Regions from separate parts of the Homo sapiens genome. Here regions 1 and 2 are each linked to region 3. Evidence: fine-mapped expression QTL. A gene starts in region 3. Each other region holds a variant in brackets. All regions are shown on one strand. Distances are between the middles of the regions.

Region 1 (5,227 bases), 130 kb after region 3:
GCTGATGAGCAAACAAGCCATAACGAATGAGTTTTAGGCTGCTTGATCATGGTTTCCATGCGACCTTTAGCATGTTCTTTCTGGTTGTTATCGTCTATGGGCAGGGAAGTCTAAGCACTGCACCTGTGTGAATGGAAAGCAAAATTGGCATGGTGTGCATTTGAAATCAAATTAGAAAGTCCATTGTGGAGATGGTATTTGCAGTCTTGCCTCTGTGCAGTATTGAACCAAAACCTTATCGTGATTGTTGAAAGGAGAAAAGTTTTGGTGAATAGTAGCATATTAAAACCCTATAATTATGGGGCATCAGAATATCTATGCTGGGGGAAGTCCTACACAAATGTCTAGAAAAGACCTAACATAAGGTTTAAAATAGAAGATCCACACTAGGTCACCATCCCAATCTCTAAAGTAAGTAGAATCAACTGGAGTCCAGTATACAGTGATAGGACTAAGTTGCACTGTTGAGGGGCTAGGCTATGTGCCTGGGACTGCGCGTTGTACTTTATGTGGATTATTTTTCTTGGTCTTCAAAGCAGCCCGTGGGGCTGAGAATGGTGTGTTGTTACCCCAGACTAAAGAGAGGCTGAGACTAAGCAACATCCCTTACGGCTATTAAGTGAAGACTCTAGACTCACACCAGGCAGTCTGACTCCAGAGAGATGCTCTTGCCTGCTATTAAAATCTGTGCTCCCTGTTATTAAAATTAGCTAATTATAACAACAGCATCTTCTTTTGGAGGGGGAAGTTACTTTATAGAAGTCTTTCTCATACATTGTCATCTTTGATCTTGAGGTGGCAGAGGAGTAAAGGTGGAGGGGTGGGGCCTTCCCTTTCAAGTTGCTGGAGGTGTCAGTTTTCCATCTGACTTGGTCAACAGCCCTAGTAAAGTCTGGGATGGTCTTTAATCTAGGAACTAGAATCTTCTCATAGTGAAATTAGAACCTGATTATAGCTTTTTAAAGCTTACCTTTTGCTACCAAAGCAATTGGGGTTTCCATGTAATAAGTCTTTTAATCCTTTAGTATTTTTTTCTTGGTTTCTCCTTGTTTTCCTGCTCTTTTTCTTAAACAGATCTACCCTGTTCTTTTTAAATATCCCAGCATAAGTGTTTACTTTTAAAATCCAGAGCTTTACTAAACATTCACATTCAGGGTATTTTGCTTTCTCTGGATCAGCCATTGCTTGTGACCGTGACTCTCCAATCATAACAGATTTGCTGAGATACACACACACATACACACACACACGCACACTCAAACTGTAGTGAGAAAGACTTGTGTTTAATCCTTCTAAATTTGTAGATTTATAGGGTCACAATGCAGCTTCAGTAAGTTTCTTATGTAGTAAACTTGAGAAATATCTAAATTGAGCTTTTAAAATAATAATAGAGAAATAAAAAATAATAAAATAAAAAGCTTTTCTAGTAAAAGCATGACTTTATCGGTATTTATTTAATTCCTCTTATTCACATGCCTAGCAAAGATCCAAGTGGCATTCCTGTGGCAGAATGGTGGACTTACAAGATTCATGATGAGAGTCTGTGCCAAGTCCAATTTGATTCCAGAGTAATTATGTTATTAGAACATTGCTGATTGCCCCAGTGCCCACTGTGCAGCTTAACCTTTAAATGCTAGTGATAATTAACTACTTTATCATTCTACCAAGAAACTCCAACATGTAACTCTGTTCTACAGTCAACTTCAAAAATACAACGCTGCCTGCAAAACCGGAAACAGCTAGCTTAAGAAAAATATAAAGTATTTGGTTGTACATATGAGCCAATAAATGAACATAAAATCTAAATCTAAATAGGCATTACCTTTTAGTATTTTTAAGAAATTGTTTTGTTTAGAAATTTTTCCTCTTAAACAATGTGGAAATAACTTTCAATAGAATATAGCAGAATCAGAGAATTGTTAATAAAAGATATATATACTCCATTTTTCTTCTTTTTGTAAAATATGAAATTAGCCAGATTTAGTGCATCTAAAGGTAAGTAAAGGAGCAAAGGTGAGGAAGGGGCTGAATTGCCATATTACCGATTCCAAGGGCACCACAACACAAATCTTACTCTAGTGAATGGTCTCCCATGGAATTGTTCATCCTAGTGATGCTCAGAAAAGGAATGTATCATAAGAGATTTGGAGTGAGATTGAGGCGTGCAGAGGGGATGTTCAGCCATTTGTGTTGAGAAATATTTCTGGGCAGTTCCCTTCTGCTCATGATGCTAGGTGCCCCACCCTCAGGGAACCCACAGCCTAAAGTGGGAAGTGGCCTTGTAAACACAGCAATAAATTTGTTGTGAGTGCTTTACTCATT[G/A]GAGGAACAAAATGTTAAGGGAACAAAGAGGAATGAATGATTAATTCTGCCTGACAGCATCTGAGGAAGCTTTGAAAGGTGACATTAGAGCTGATTCTTAAGGATAGTGGGGGATTTCAAAAGATAGATCTTGAGAAAATAGTCATTGCCATAAGCCAGGAAAAAAGGCTACAGGTGCAACGAAAATACACAGAGCCCAGGGGAACACTGGCTTATAGTGCTGATGTAGGATACAAGGCCAGGACTCTGGATTGGGGTGTGGAGTGAGGACTTTGGAAAACAGCCATACTCAGAAATTTGGAATTTTTTTCCCCCTGTGAACAGTAGGAAACTGTCCTTTTAAAAGAGGAGTTAAAACAGGCTGAACCTCTCTTTGGGAAGTATGAATTCCAGAAGTGAGGTGGATAGACTGGAGAGGGGAAAACTAGAAACGGGATTGAGGCATGAAGTATGGTAGATAGTAACCCACAGATGATGATTGCATGCATGGTTTCAGTGGTCATGAAAACCTACTGAGTGCATTGGGTTGTGTGAAAGCAAAGCAGAAGTGTTGACCCAAGTCTCATGGCTTGGGAGTGAGGTTTGGAACTCAGCAGAGATACACAAAAGTCAAGAAGTAGTCCACTTTAAAAAATCGTTTGGCTCGTAATGTTTTGTGTCAATCTTCAGCCTTACTGAATAATGCCTGCAGTCTTTTCTGCCACTAAGTTTAAGGCTGAACGTTTGATAGGTCTAGGGCTAGAGTATTCATATAAAACCTCAAGAGGGGCTGGCACAGCAGGGACGGATTTAGAGGTCCCCAGCCCGCCCAGTGGGCACCCACTCACTGGTCCCATCTCTCTCCCCCACCAAACTCCCACCTGCACATCTTTGGAGCTTGTAATAAAGAGTTGCCATCACCACAGGTATGAAGAAAGACCATCAATCTTCTTAACAATGTGCTTTGGAAGTTCAGAAATGCCACAAAAGAGATTGTGACATTAAGGCTCAGTGGAAATAAAATGGAACATAGACCCAAAAGTTCTGGGTAACACACTTTCTCTCATAGTTAATTAAAAGGGCCTCGTAAATGTTGTATGTTTTTATAAACATCAGTTATTACCAACAGACTAAGATAAAGCAAAAAAAAAAACCCGTTCAAAGAGTTAGTCTTATATGAAATAAATTTATAAATGAGGAAGAGCTTTCCTGACCAGTTTTCTGAATTGATTTGCATGCCAGACAGAGACGTTCCAGTGGTGATTGTTCTTCCTATAACTTTTTTTCCATAGAGATTTTCAGATATTCTTTCTACTACTCTCCAAGATCAGCCCTTTGTTACCCTGGGTTAGGGTCATTCACACTTGGGAGCCCTGCCCTGGTGCCCTGCCAAGGGACTGTGTTACTCAGGTTTTTGCCATTCACCACTCAGCAGCATAGCGCAGCCCTCAGTCCAGCTCCCGCTCTCCCACCTCACCTGCATTTAGATCTTTTCTTTGGTCTGTCTGAAGCTTAGTCACTAGGCAGTTGTTAAGATTGTTCCAGTTTTCATTGGCACTTTTTTCACTTCTTCATCCATGATTTTAAGCTCTCATATTATCTAAATGTGCCCAATAACCACCTGACCTTCATGGCAGATAGAGTCATTCTCTGCTTCAGGTCTTGTCACCCACGTCTCTTGTGTGTATAGGAGACTTCTCCAGTTGAGAGCTCCTTGAAAGCAGAGGTGAAGCATACAGGCTGAGCCTAAGTGTGGTCCCAAGAGGCATGGAGCATCTTTCTCCATTCCCTGGCCCCAGTGGCATTCCTAGGTTTCCAGACATTGAAAGGTGTGGGTTCATGAAAACTATAGGAGTGAGAAAGGAATAATACGCATTTCTGCAGGTGGTGTTTTTCCTGCCACTCTGTATCTTCCAGGCCCTAACATATGGCGCTGAGCAAAACTTCATAAATATGACCTATATGTCACATGACTGCCATCTTTGGTTGCTCAAATCCCCCAAAATTACTTTCCCCCCTTTTTTTTTCATTGACTTACTAATTACCTCTTAAAAGCTCTACTTTATAGTTTTTCTATAGAAGCTTGAAATGCTGGCTTCCCATTAGCCAGCAAACTTTAAAAACAAAACAAAACAAACAAACAAAAAAACCTGGCTTTTTCTCCTTCCCTTTTTTCTCATATATGCTTCCTTTCCCAACTTTCTTTCTTTTTTTTGAGACAGAGTTTCACTCTGTCGCCCAGGCTGGAATGCAGTGGCGCCATCTTGGCTCACTGCAGCATCTGCCTCCCGGGTTCAAGCAGTTCTCCTGCCTCAGCCTCCTGAGTAGCTGGGACTGCAGGCACGCCACCATGCCCAGCTAATTTGTTTTGTCTTTTTAGTGGAGATGGGGTTTCACCATGTTGGCCAGGATGGTCTCGACCTCCTGACCTTGTGATCTGCCCGCCTTGGCTTCCCAAAGTACTGGGATTACAGGTGTGAATCACCATGCCCAGCCCCTTTCCCAAGTTTCTAAAGGCACTTCAACAGTACAATATATCCGTAAAACCAAACCCATTCTGTTTTGAGTTTACACTAATTCCTGCCACCCTTTTTATTTCCTCTCCTCCCTCTGTCCCATCTCTCTGCCTCTTCTCGTTTTTTCTTTCTTTCCCATTATCTTTCCCCCTTGTCTTTTGCTACTTGTCTTTCCCTTTATATCCCTGTTTTCTTCCTTTCGTCTCCTCCGCTTTCTCCTATCTCCTCTTAACAGCTTTGCAAGTATATGCTAAAGAATAAAAAGAAAAGAAAGTCTCAAGTGACTTAAAAATCACTCGGCTAAATAGATGATAATTTCTCAACCATGCTTCCTCTCCTTCTAATTCCAGAGCTCTTCAGTATCCCCATCAGCCAGTTTCCGAGGTGCTGAGAAGCACAGAAACTCCGCA
Region 2 (5,202 bases), 150 kb after region 3:
GATTAAATCCAGAAAGATAGGCTTTATTTTTGAAGTGAAAGTTATTTTTTACAAATGGATGAGTTTTCTGTTAATAGTTTGGTGTTCTATAAAGCAAATCTTGGTGTCTGACAGAGTAACACAAACATTGCCTTTTTCAAAACCCTTTACCTATAGGCAAATGGTTTGTAAGCACTGGAAAGGACAACCTTCTGAATGCCTGGAGAACACCTTATGGGGCCAGTATATTCCAGGTAACATGGAACTTGTTAACTACCACTTATGTTTGTTTAATCAAACTCTCTGTGCATTCTCTCAGATTAATAATGTGCAGAAGTGTCCTGGGAGGTCAGAGCTAGTATTATGCACATTGTACAGAGAAGGAAACTGTGTCCAAGGAGAGGTTAAGTGTCACAGCAAAGCCGTGGAGCTGGGGATAGTCCCCAGTGTTCTGAGCTCAGAGCCAGTGCTGTGCCTGATTCAGTGCTCACTGTTGCTTCATCATCAATCCCTTTTTGGAGTAGAGGTTTTATGTCTTCTGAGAATTTTATACATGTATGTCTTTTGTAATTTTTAATTTTAAAACTTGAGCATTTTGCTTAAATACACTCTTGTTAGTAGTAGTAGTTTTTTTATTTTATTTTTTCCAAAGAAGAGTGTTATGGAAAAGTTTGATAAAAATCAGTTTTATAAACTTTTATTTTCCCTATTGACTCAGTGGAACTTTGTATAGCTTGTGAAATTATTTGTAGAAGGACCAAATTGTAGACATAGTACACATATATGCACGCGTGCACACACACGCTCTCCTCCTCTCTCCTACTGGTATGTGAGAATTTCATAGGCAAGGTGAAAGACTTGCCTTTATTAACCTTCTATATTTAGGATGTTATTTCCTAGTGTTCTTTTTTACAAGCAATATAATAGACTTGCAGTTTTCTTGACCAAGTGGTATTATCATAAAGTAGATTAATTCCATCGAATCCAAAATAGTATGCAAGATAATCAGTAGGACAAAAAACGCCAATTGTTGCAGTCATGAAGCTTAGAATTTAATAGAGCATTTTTCATAACATGGATTATCACTTGTTAGATAGTCCCAACTGCACTTTAAAAAAAGAGTAGTACATTTTTTATAGTAAGCATAAGTACTATGTCTTTAAGTGTTTAAAGTATTCAGAGTCCTGGTTAAAATCCTGTGTTGTTTTCATTTTAAATGAGCACAGTTTAGTTAAAAGTTAACATTGAATCCTTCATACTACAGTTGAATATGGTATACAAAATTCTATGGTATGTTTTTAACTGTTGAACCTCTCCCCTCTCGCAAATTTGTGTCACATTTTTACAGTGGGAACATTAGGCTTTTTACTAGGAATATTTTTACATTCTTTTTTTTTTTTTAATGTATTCTCAGTGCCATTTCTCATATCTGATCTCACTGAACTCTGCTGCATCCCTCTGAGGTGGTAGACAGGTAAAATGTCTACCTGTTTGCTATTGTAAGGAAACTGAGGTGCAGACAGGTTAAGTGACCTGTGCCGTGTTCCACAGCTCAACCTGACTCCAAGCCATCTGTTTGAAGTTGAGGGTTTTTCATACCAGTAACACCCCGTCTTAATGGTAGAATAGGGTTTGAAATAAGGTCTTGCTTTGCCAGCAGAGGTGCTCATGCCATTGGCTTGCCTGCCTAGCTGATGTCCCCAGGACAGAAGCCTCCTGACTGACCTGGTGAGGTGTCGCCAAGGGTGGATCCGATCCACCTCTGCCATTTTAAGAAAGTGCCACGTGGTGGCTCATGCCTGTAATCTCAGGCATAATTTGGGAGGCCAAGGCAAGAGGATCTCTTGAGCCCAGGAGTTCGAGACCAGCCTGGGCAACTTAGTGAGACCCTCTCTCTACAAAAAAAGTTTGAAAATTAGGTGTGATTGGACACATCAGTGTCGTAGTCCCAGCATCTCAGGAGACTGAGGTGGAAGGATTGCTTGAGCTCAGAAGGTCGAGGCTACAGTGAGCCATGGTCACACCACTGCACTGCAGCCTGAGTGACTGAGGGAGACCCTGTCTTATTAAAAAAAAAAAAAAAAAAAAAAAAAAAAAAAAGCAGCAGTACTGTCCATGACCACCTTTCACCTTTCCTTGACTGGGCTTTCTGTTTGGTCAAGGAGCACATTACATTTGCATTTGCTCTAAGTCCTCCATACTCATGGGATTTTCTTTCAGTATTTAACATTTTTGATTATATGTTTCTTTCCTAGTCCAAAGAATCCTCATCGGTGCTTAGCTGTGACATCTCCGTGGACGACAAATACATTGTCACTGGCTCTGGGGATAAGAAGGCCACAGTTTATGAAGTTATTTATTAAAGACAAATCTTCATGCAGACTGGACTTCTCCTCCTGGTAGCACTTTGCTCTGTCATCCTTTTTGTTCACCCCCATCCCCGCATCTAAAACCAAGGATTTCAGATACTCATTGCAGTTGTGGAGTTTAATCCCCTTTCTTAACCTCACTTCCCACTTGCTATTGAATTGTGAATAGTCATTAAAAACCTGTGATACCAAATCTTCAGCTGTCTACTTGGAAGAACATGGAATAAGCATACTTAACAGTGAAAAGAATCTTTAATTATGTATTATATCTGTAATATATTTATTTTGTTTAAAGAAGGCTTTCTAACAATGACTGACTAAATAAAGCTGTCTGCTCCTGCATTGATAATGAAGGTGCGTTGTATTTGATACCCCTCCCCCCCTTTTTTTGGCAAAGGAGGGGAAAGGAAGGTTTAAAATAATTGATTTAAAATGTCACTAAGTGTAGACTGATGACTGTATAGAGATGTGAAATGTATAATTACACATGGAAGCAATATGTTGCTGTGTTGTTATTAGGTTTTTTTTGTTTTTGTTTTCTACATCTTTTAAAGACTTTTGGAAATTTGGCTGAACAATTAGAACACAACAGGCCAACTCATACTCATTTGGATCTATTTAGACAACGTTAACCAATATATCTATAGCTTTAGATTATATTCGATAAAAGTAATTGGACTTTTTTTCTTTTTTTGACTC[G/A]TTGACAAGTGTCTTTGTAATATGTTTTTAGTTCCCTTTTTTTGTTGTATTATAGGCAGATGAACAAATTAAATTTGGCCTCAAAGAGAGAACTTACTCCCTTCTGGATATTTTTGCCACATTTCTTTGCAAAAGGAGATATATATATCTTTAGTCAGTTTTGTTGTTATGAGAAATTATGGGTTATTTTGTGGCATGCTCTTTGGGAGCTGCACAGTTATGGGGAGGACTCCCACTGCTGTGCAAGTTAAGTCTTTTACAAAACAAGGACAGCAGAGGAGGGTTTGCAGAGACCTCCCTCTGAAAAACACAAAGAATGGACTCTCTCCTGGGATGAGGACTTGCTTTCTTTACCTCCGGTTCTTTCCATGTCTTAGTTGGATGTCCCTGAAATGGACACAGGCTGTGCCATTGTGCCAGAAACATTGTGTTATCTTTTATGTTGTTGTTGTTGCTGTTAAACTATAATATGTGACTTCTTTTTTTATTATTTTTTGTTTGAATGCTTTAAAAATCTTTTAAGTCTGTGGATCTGCTGATGTACAGTGCCTTTGCTGCTATGGATCAAAATCAAAAGAACCGTGTAGATATACTTTATTGTATAAGTAGAAAATTACTTAATTTCATACTAGAAATGGATGGATGCTGCAAGTTGAAATGGACTGTCCATTGACGTTCCTAATGTGGTAGCAGAAAAAAAAAAATGGTGTCTTAAGTGCTTAGTGTTTGATGTCATTAACAGTTTCGTAAAACTCTACAGTGTAGAAAGATTTTGATACTAAACTGTGCGTTGTACATAGTTCTAATGCATTGTATTGACCACCAGTACTTCTATAATGGTAGATTGTTTGTGAATTCAGACTTTTAAGCATTAAACATAAATAACTTCTAGTATGCTTATTTTTCTAATTCTTTGTCTTGATGACATTAGTTTATTTTTTATCTTTGGCTGTGCCACTCCTATATATTAAAAATGCCTAGTTTTTTCAAGGGAGATTGTTGTTAAAGTAAAGTGGTTTTTTTTGTTGTTAAAGTAATGTGGGTTTTTTTCACTGTTGCTGTTTTTGTTTTGGTTTTGTCTTTACTTGAGAGGAGCTAGAAAAGGTAGGTGATAGAAGTTAACAGTGACCAGTTGGTGCTAAATATTTATTGAGTACCTCTTTGATTTATAAAAATACTGCTTACCAAAAGGTTATCATGTCCCTCAAACCCTTGATGCTTTAGAGCTATGCTGTTCAATATGGTTACCCTAGGCATTTGTGGCTCTTTAAATTTATTAAAGTTAAATAAAACTAGAAATCTAATTTACCAGTCACACAAACTACATTTCAAGTGTCAAGTAGCCACATGTGGCTAATGGCTACCGTATTGGACTAGACACATCAACACGGGCTTTAAGTTAGCCAATGTAAACCATTGCCAGCCATGTGGATTTGGGAAGCATTTCTAGCATAACACACTGAGGTCTTTACACCAGGCTTCTTGGGCTGCTACTGGTTGGGTGTATGAAGATTCAGTATAAAGAGGAGTTTAAATTAAGAATTCTAAAGTGCTGGGACTCAAAAATCCGACATTTTAAGGTTCTACTAAGTAGGAGGATTGGAAGCCCCACAGTAGTCTGGAGGGATCATCTATAAGAGATACTTCGGTTGCTGAGTTAAGTACAGTATTCATCAGTTGGACTGGAAGCCGCACTTCCATTGTGATACCATGTGCGTTGTTACATCAAATGATGACACACAAGTCATTGAAGGCTGGCTGAAAAATTAAAAACCATAAAAAACATGGGGGTAAGTGATCATCTTCAAAGATGTGTCCCTAGACAGGATGATGGAGTTTATGTTGGACTGGGAAGGAATAATCTTCAATATCTGCTATGTACAGAGCACTGTACTGGCTTATATTACATATTTTATATATATACGTATATATAATATATACATACAATATTAGCCACCTACCCATTATCTCAGGTTTTTCACAGCTTGTGTACCTATATGGTCCAAAGATTTGGAAACCCTAAGGGAAAAGCAAGTCTGAGGAAGGTACTAATGCATCGAGTATATCTGTACACACTGGAAGACTGGGGGCGTCTGGAGTAAGAGGGAGGTGATTATCTAGGTAAGGCACAGAGCAGAGTTGTCCATGTGGACCG
Region 3 (5,227 bases):
CCTGTAATCCAAGCACTTTGGGAGGCCGAGGCGGACGGATCACCTGAGGTCAGGAGTTCAAGACCAGCCTGACCAACATGGAGAAACCCCGTCTCTACTAAAAATACAAAAAATTAGCTGGGTGTGGTGGCGCATGCCTGTAATCCTAGCTACTCGGGAGGCTGAGGAAGGAGAATCGCTTGAACCCAGGAGGCGGAGGTTGCGGTGAGCCGAGATCGTGCCATTGCACTCCAGCCTGGGCAACAAGAGCGAAACTCTGTCTCAAAAAAAAAAAAAAAAAAAAAAAAAAGTGTGTGCCTGCAGTCCCAACAACACTGGAGGCTCAGGCAGGAGGATAGCTTGAGCTTCAGAGTTTGAGGCCAGCCTAGGCAACACAGGAAGACCCCCATCAATACAATAAATAAATAGAAACAGACAAAATTAATTTTACTAATATTTTTAATTGAGTTATTCAAAATATCACAATTTTGACATAATTATAAATTATTGAGCTGCAGTTTTTTCACATTAATTTTTTCAAAATGCCACATATATGTGTACTTACAGCACATCTCATTTTGAATTGGACACATTTCAAGTGCTTAACAGTCACATGTGGCTAGGTATGGAACAGCAGAGGTTCAGAAAACTGTCAAAAGGACTTCTCTGTCCTCTTATTTTGGGGATGGAGGCGAAAATATTTGCCGAATTGAAACATTCTGTGAACTTTGGCTCTGGGTTTTTAGTATGAAATTAGAGGCAGGTGAAGACCACCATAGCCTTCCTTTGCACCAGCTCACTACAGTGGCCAGAACGGAAGGAGGTTCACAGAACGTGCTAGGTTGGACATTAAGTCACCGAGTCATCCACTGAGGAAAGGGATATCATTAAGAAGAATAGTTTTCCACTAACGCCGAACCGGCGGCACCATCTCAACCAACAGGTCAAGTTACAGTAGGCAAGCACGCATAGAAATAAACGTCTAAAACCCAGCCTGTTACATTAGCCAACACTCTTCTTGACTTTTTCCGAATTTTTTCCCTGTCCCCAAGATTAGCCGCTCGCTAGAAAAGACTGCGAGCCTCAGCAGCCTCCCCTTGAACTGGGGCGCTGCCTCCAGCTGGACACGGACTAAGGATGGAAAGGCGCACTGACGGAGGCCGCCCCCATTTCCCAGGCCCCTCCCTAGGGGTGCCCCTCCTCAGCCATGGCTGCCCCTTTCTCTCCTCCTCCAGCATCTGCCCCTGGGGCCACCCCCACCTTTCCGCCATCTCTCGGGCCCGCGTGGCACCCTGCTCTGTTTTTAACGGGGATAAACTTGACTTGCTTCTCCAAAGAGCGGGAAAAAGAGGCGCAGTCTTGGTACTGATCTGGGGGAGGGAACGTCCCAGGGCGCGCAGGGGCGTTTTCTACCCGTGCCCCGTCGGCCTGCTCTGTTCAGTACCGACCGTGTTCGGGGTTCACGTGGCCCAGTCGGCAAAGTTTCTTTGGAGGTCCAGCGTCTCTGATTCCCGGATCTTCAGCCCCACCCGGAGCCCCCACGGTTACTGCCCCCCGCGACCCCCGATGGAGCGTCGGGATGCGCTTTCTCTCCGAGTGCCTCCGGGGGTGGAGGGAGGGAGGCCTGTTTCGGAACTAAATGGCAATCACAGCCCCCGCGGGGCTTGGAGGGACGAGCTCCCCGCCCACCCCGCGGCCCCGGCCCCAGCCAGCATCTCGCGACTCCATTTCTGGCTCTAAACAAGAACGGGGACCGAGTCGCGTTCACACGGAAAATTATGCCGGCTCCAGCGGCGCGTAAAATTGATGTGAACCGAACGAAGTAAGATCAGCGTGATCCTCCCCCTCTTGTCTCAACAGGGGTTTCGGCGCGTTACACAAGGCCGAGCTTGTCTCTTTAAGGAGACATTGGACCCTAATTAGTCCGCATTCCTGGCGCGGCTGCGGAGCGAGGGGCCGAAGGTGTCTGGGTTGGGAGACGGGTGGGCGGGAGGACGAGACTCGGAAGAAGATCTTTTGACCAGCCCCCAGGCTCACCGCTCCCTCCACCCTCTTTATTTTGCCGCCACCACCACCACCACCACCAACACCTAATTCTGAAGATGCAGCCAGGGCAGCAGCAACAGCAGCAGCCGCCGATTCTCCCAGCCCCACGTTACTTTGATTGACAGCTGAACAAATGTTTTCCCGGTTCGAACGCTCGCGCTAAGGAACGTCAGCCAAGGCGAAGCTCCGCCTTGGGCGGGCCATCTCCGCCCCGCCTCCGCCAACCTCATTCCTCTTCGTTAATTGGTCGGAGCTACAGGCGACGCCCGGCCCCCACGTGGGTTTCAGCTGGGTTGGCTCCTCCCCGCTGGCTTGCCATTTGTCAGCAGTGAAATGATGGGCACTAACACAGAACGGCGATTAATGTTCAGCCACCTCTGATTGGTTGGTGGAGACGCCTACCGCAACGGGGGTGGGCGGGGCGCTTGGAGAGCTCGCCAGAGCGCTCGCATGGCGGGCCGGTGATTGTAGTCAATCTGGCCGTATTCTCAGGCAGGGTCGCCCGGGGCGGACTACATCTCCCGGGATGCTGCGCGGCCGCCCCGCGGAAGATTGTGAATATGTATCAGAATGTTAATGATTAGCTGCTGCTAAATTTGGTCAAAGAAGTCACCTACACAGAGCGTGTTGTTAGAGCTGTGCTGAGCGGGTGTTTGGGTTGTTGGCTGCTTTCTTCCCCCTTTCTCACACACTTGTATATTATTTTGAGGTGGTGTTCGCAGAGTTTGAAAGGAGAGAGAATTAAAAAAAAAAGCCGCAAGCGTTTCACTCTTTTATTTTTATAATCCCCTTCAATTTGGGGTTAAAAAAAAGACAAGAAAACAGGAAGGAAGAGAAATAAGGAAATGAGATGTGGTAAAAGAAGCTAAAAGGTGCCTTTTAAAAGATCGTTGCTGTGAAGTGAAAAAAATCTCCAGAGAAACCAAAAAGCACCGCCGAGACCTCTTCCGAACCAAAGGAGTTTGTGTTTGCTTTTAGGGAAGAAGAAAGATCATTCATTCGGAGGAATAACAACCAATTAAAAGACAAATAAAAAAAGTTTGGAGTGGGACGCAGAGCGAGCGAGAGGAGCTGCCGGCGGGCGGTGGGGCGCGGAGCCCGCACTTTCCCGGCCGGGTGAGCGGCGGCCGCGGCGCCGGGCTCGGCGGGTGCGCCTCGGCGGAGCGAACGTCGGAGCGTTGCCTTGGGAGACGCGCGCCGGACAATGCCCGCGGCGGGCCAGTGACGCCCGCGGGGAATGCGGAGCGGCCCGGCAGCCGGCACCCAGCCGCCGCCGCGCGTTCCTGCCGCCCGTGTCACGCGAGACCCGGCGGGGGCCGGGACCGCCCGAGCCGCCCCTCAGACCGAGCCGGCCGCCTCCGCTGCCGCGGCCGCCTCCTCTTCGGGGTCATTAAAGCCAATGAGCCGCGCGCCTCTGCCGAGCGCAGCCAACTAAATCGGCTTGGATGATTCGCGACCTGAGCAAGATGTACCCGCAGACCAGACACCCAGTGAGTGCGGGCGGCGGGGCGCGGGCTCGCCGGGTGCTGGGGGATTCCCCGCGTCGCCCCCTGCGCACCGAGTTGTGTCTTTTGGCCGGAGGGGCGTGGAGAGCCGCCCGAAATCGGCGCCCCGCGCCGGGAGCAGCCCGCCCGCCATCACCCCCACCCCCCGGCGCGGTGGCCCTCGGAGGGGGTGCGGAGAGGCAATTGAGTTGTAGCCATTTTCTTATTGTTGTCTTTGAAGCCCCTGGAAGCCGCGCCGAGCCGTTTGCGGTCCCCGCGCCGCGACTCCTCGAGGGGGGGTGGCGAGCGATGAAGGAGGCGCGACTCCGCGCCCGGGCGGGGAGGGCGCCCTCGGCAGCGGCGCTGCTGGGCTGGCTGCGGTTTGGAAGTGCGGGGCGCCGGCCCCTCGCGCCGCGGGCCGCCGGGGCGAGCGGGCGAACGAACGAGCCGAGAGGGTGGCGGCCGCCTCCCTCCTCCCCCGGCCTGACCGCAGCCCGACGCCATGGCGCGGGTCCCCCCGACGGGCCAGTTTCGATTCCGGGTGAGGAGGGAGTGGGCGCGGCGCGCGGGTCCCTGGGTGCCTGTCTTTGGCCGGGGAGGGGAGACGGGACTCGAACCCTCGGGGTCCGGGGCGCGGGGGCCTGCGGGCGGGAGTATGCGGGGCCCCAGGACCACCTCGAAACCAGCCTCTGCCTGGGCTGTTGGGCGCGAGGAGGGTTGCGGGAGGAGAGTTTTAATCTCTCTTTGCTTGCGTGCGCGATGACCCTCACCCCCCGCTAACGCCGCATAGTAGGTTTTCTCCGTCTCCCTGCTTCGCCTGTGATGTGGGCTAATTAAATATTTTATTGTTGTTCTTCAGGCACCGCATCAGCCTGCTCAACCCTTTAAATTTACAATTTCCGAATCCTGTGATCGGATTAAGGAAGAGTTTCAGTTTTTACAGGCTCAATACCACAGGTAACGATATTGACTTTAGCTGATCCTTCTGTTTGCTTAGCTCTTGTCTCCCCGACAAATACACACAAACACTTACCCTCCTCCTTTTTTGTGGGGGCGTCACAAAGGTATTATTTTTTTTTCTCGGTGGGCAGAAAGGGCAAATCAAGGCCTCCTTCCTTAGGCAGGTGTAAATAAATTAAACATTTCTTCTACCGTAAATAAAAAGAAGGCAGAACAATCGAAACTGGGGAGACTTGGAAAACGCTGAGGCCAAACTTTCGATATTGATTTATTGGGGCCGGGAGAATGAAAGGTTGGGAAGATTCTGGGGCCTTTTGACATCCTTGGTTCTTTATTACTCCGGACTTGATTCCTTCTCACTTTTTTCTGCCATTCCACTGAAGAGCTGAGAGCCCAGGGAAGTCGGAGTGAGCGATTTCATTACTTTTATGCTAAAAAAAAAAAAAATGTTTTCATCTTATAGACGATTTTTAGACTTAGGGTGCCTTTGAGACATTTTTCTTTAGCTGGCTTTTTAATGATGCCTAATTCTTATTTCATAAATGCAAGAACCAAAACAAACCACTGAACCCGATTGACACTTTGCCCCTGGGTGGTGGTATTCAACTTGTCTGTGTGTTTTGGAGGGAAAAAAACAAGATATCATTCATAAGACATGCTTGATTCATATTTTCATTAATCTCTTTGTAGAACATTAAAGAAATTCCCTTGTGACGTTTTGGAGGACTTATTTGTGCTTGTATGTGCAGTCATTATTG

What was found.
Region 1: its variant is fine-mapped to the expression of TLE4 in whole blood (TOPMed, PIP above 0.99).
Region 2: its variant is fine-mapped to the expression of TLE4 in whole blood (INTERVAL, PIP above 0.99).

What each region holds. Positions count from the first base shown.
Region 1 is chr9:79,699,616-79,704,842 of GRCh38, forward strand. TLE4 (TLE family member 4, transcriptional corepressor) reads left to right here. Exons shown (of 20, transcript NM_007005.6): 9 at 5,168-5,227. Among named protein-coding and RNA genes, the nearest start is that of LINC01507, 120 kb to the right of the region's middle. The variant G/A (reference allele first, on the strand shown) is at 2,323.
Region 2 is chr9:79,722,803-79,728,004 of GRCh38, forward strand. TLE4 (TLE family member 4, transcriptional corepressor) reads left to right here. Exons shown (of 20, transcript NM_007005.6): 19 at 157-233; 20 at 2,235-4,080. The coding sequence ends at 2,342. Among named protein-coding and RNA genes, the nearest start is that of LINC01507, 99 kb to the right of the region's middle. The variant G/A (reference allele first, on the strand shown) is at 3,048.
Region 3 is chr9:79,569,321-79,574,547 of GRCh38, forward strand. TLE4 (TLE family member 4, transcriptional corepressor) reads left to right here and starts at 2,645. Exons shown (of 20, transcript NM_007005.6): 1 at 2,645-3,515; 2 at 4,369-4,466. The coding sequence starts at 3,471. RefSeq lists silencers at 1,117-1,166, 3,077-3,196, 3,257-3,416, 3,527-3,996, 4,017-4,256 and enhancers at 2,527-2,656, 2,667-2,716, 2,757-2,846, 3,574-4,186.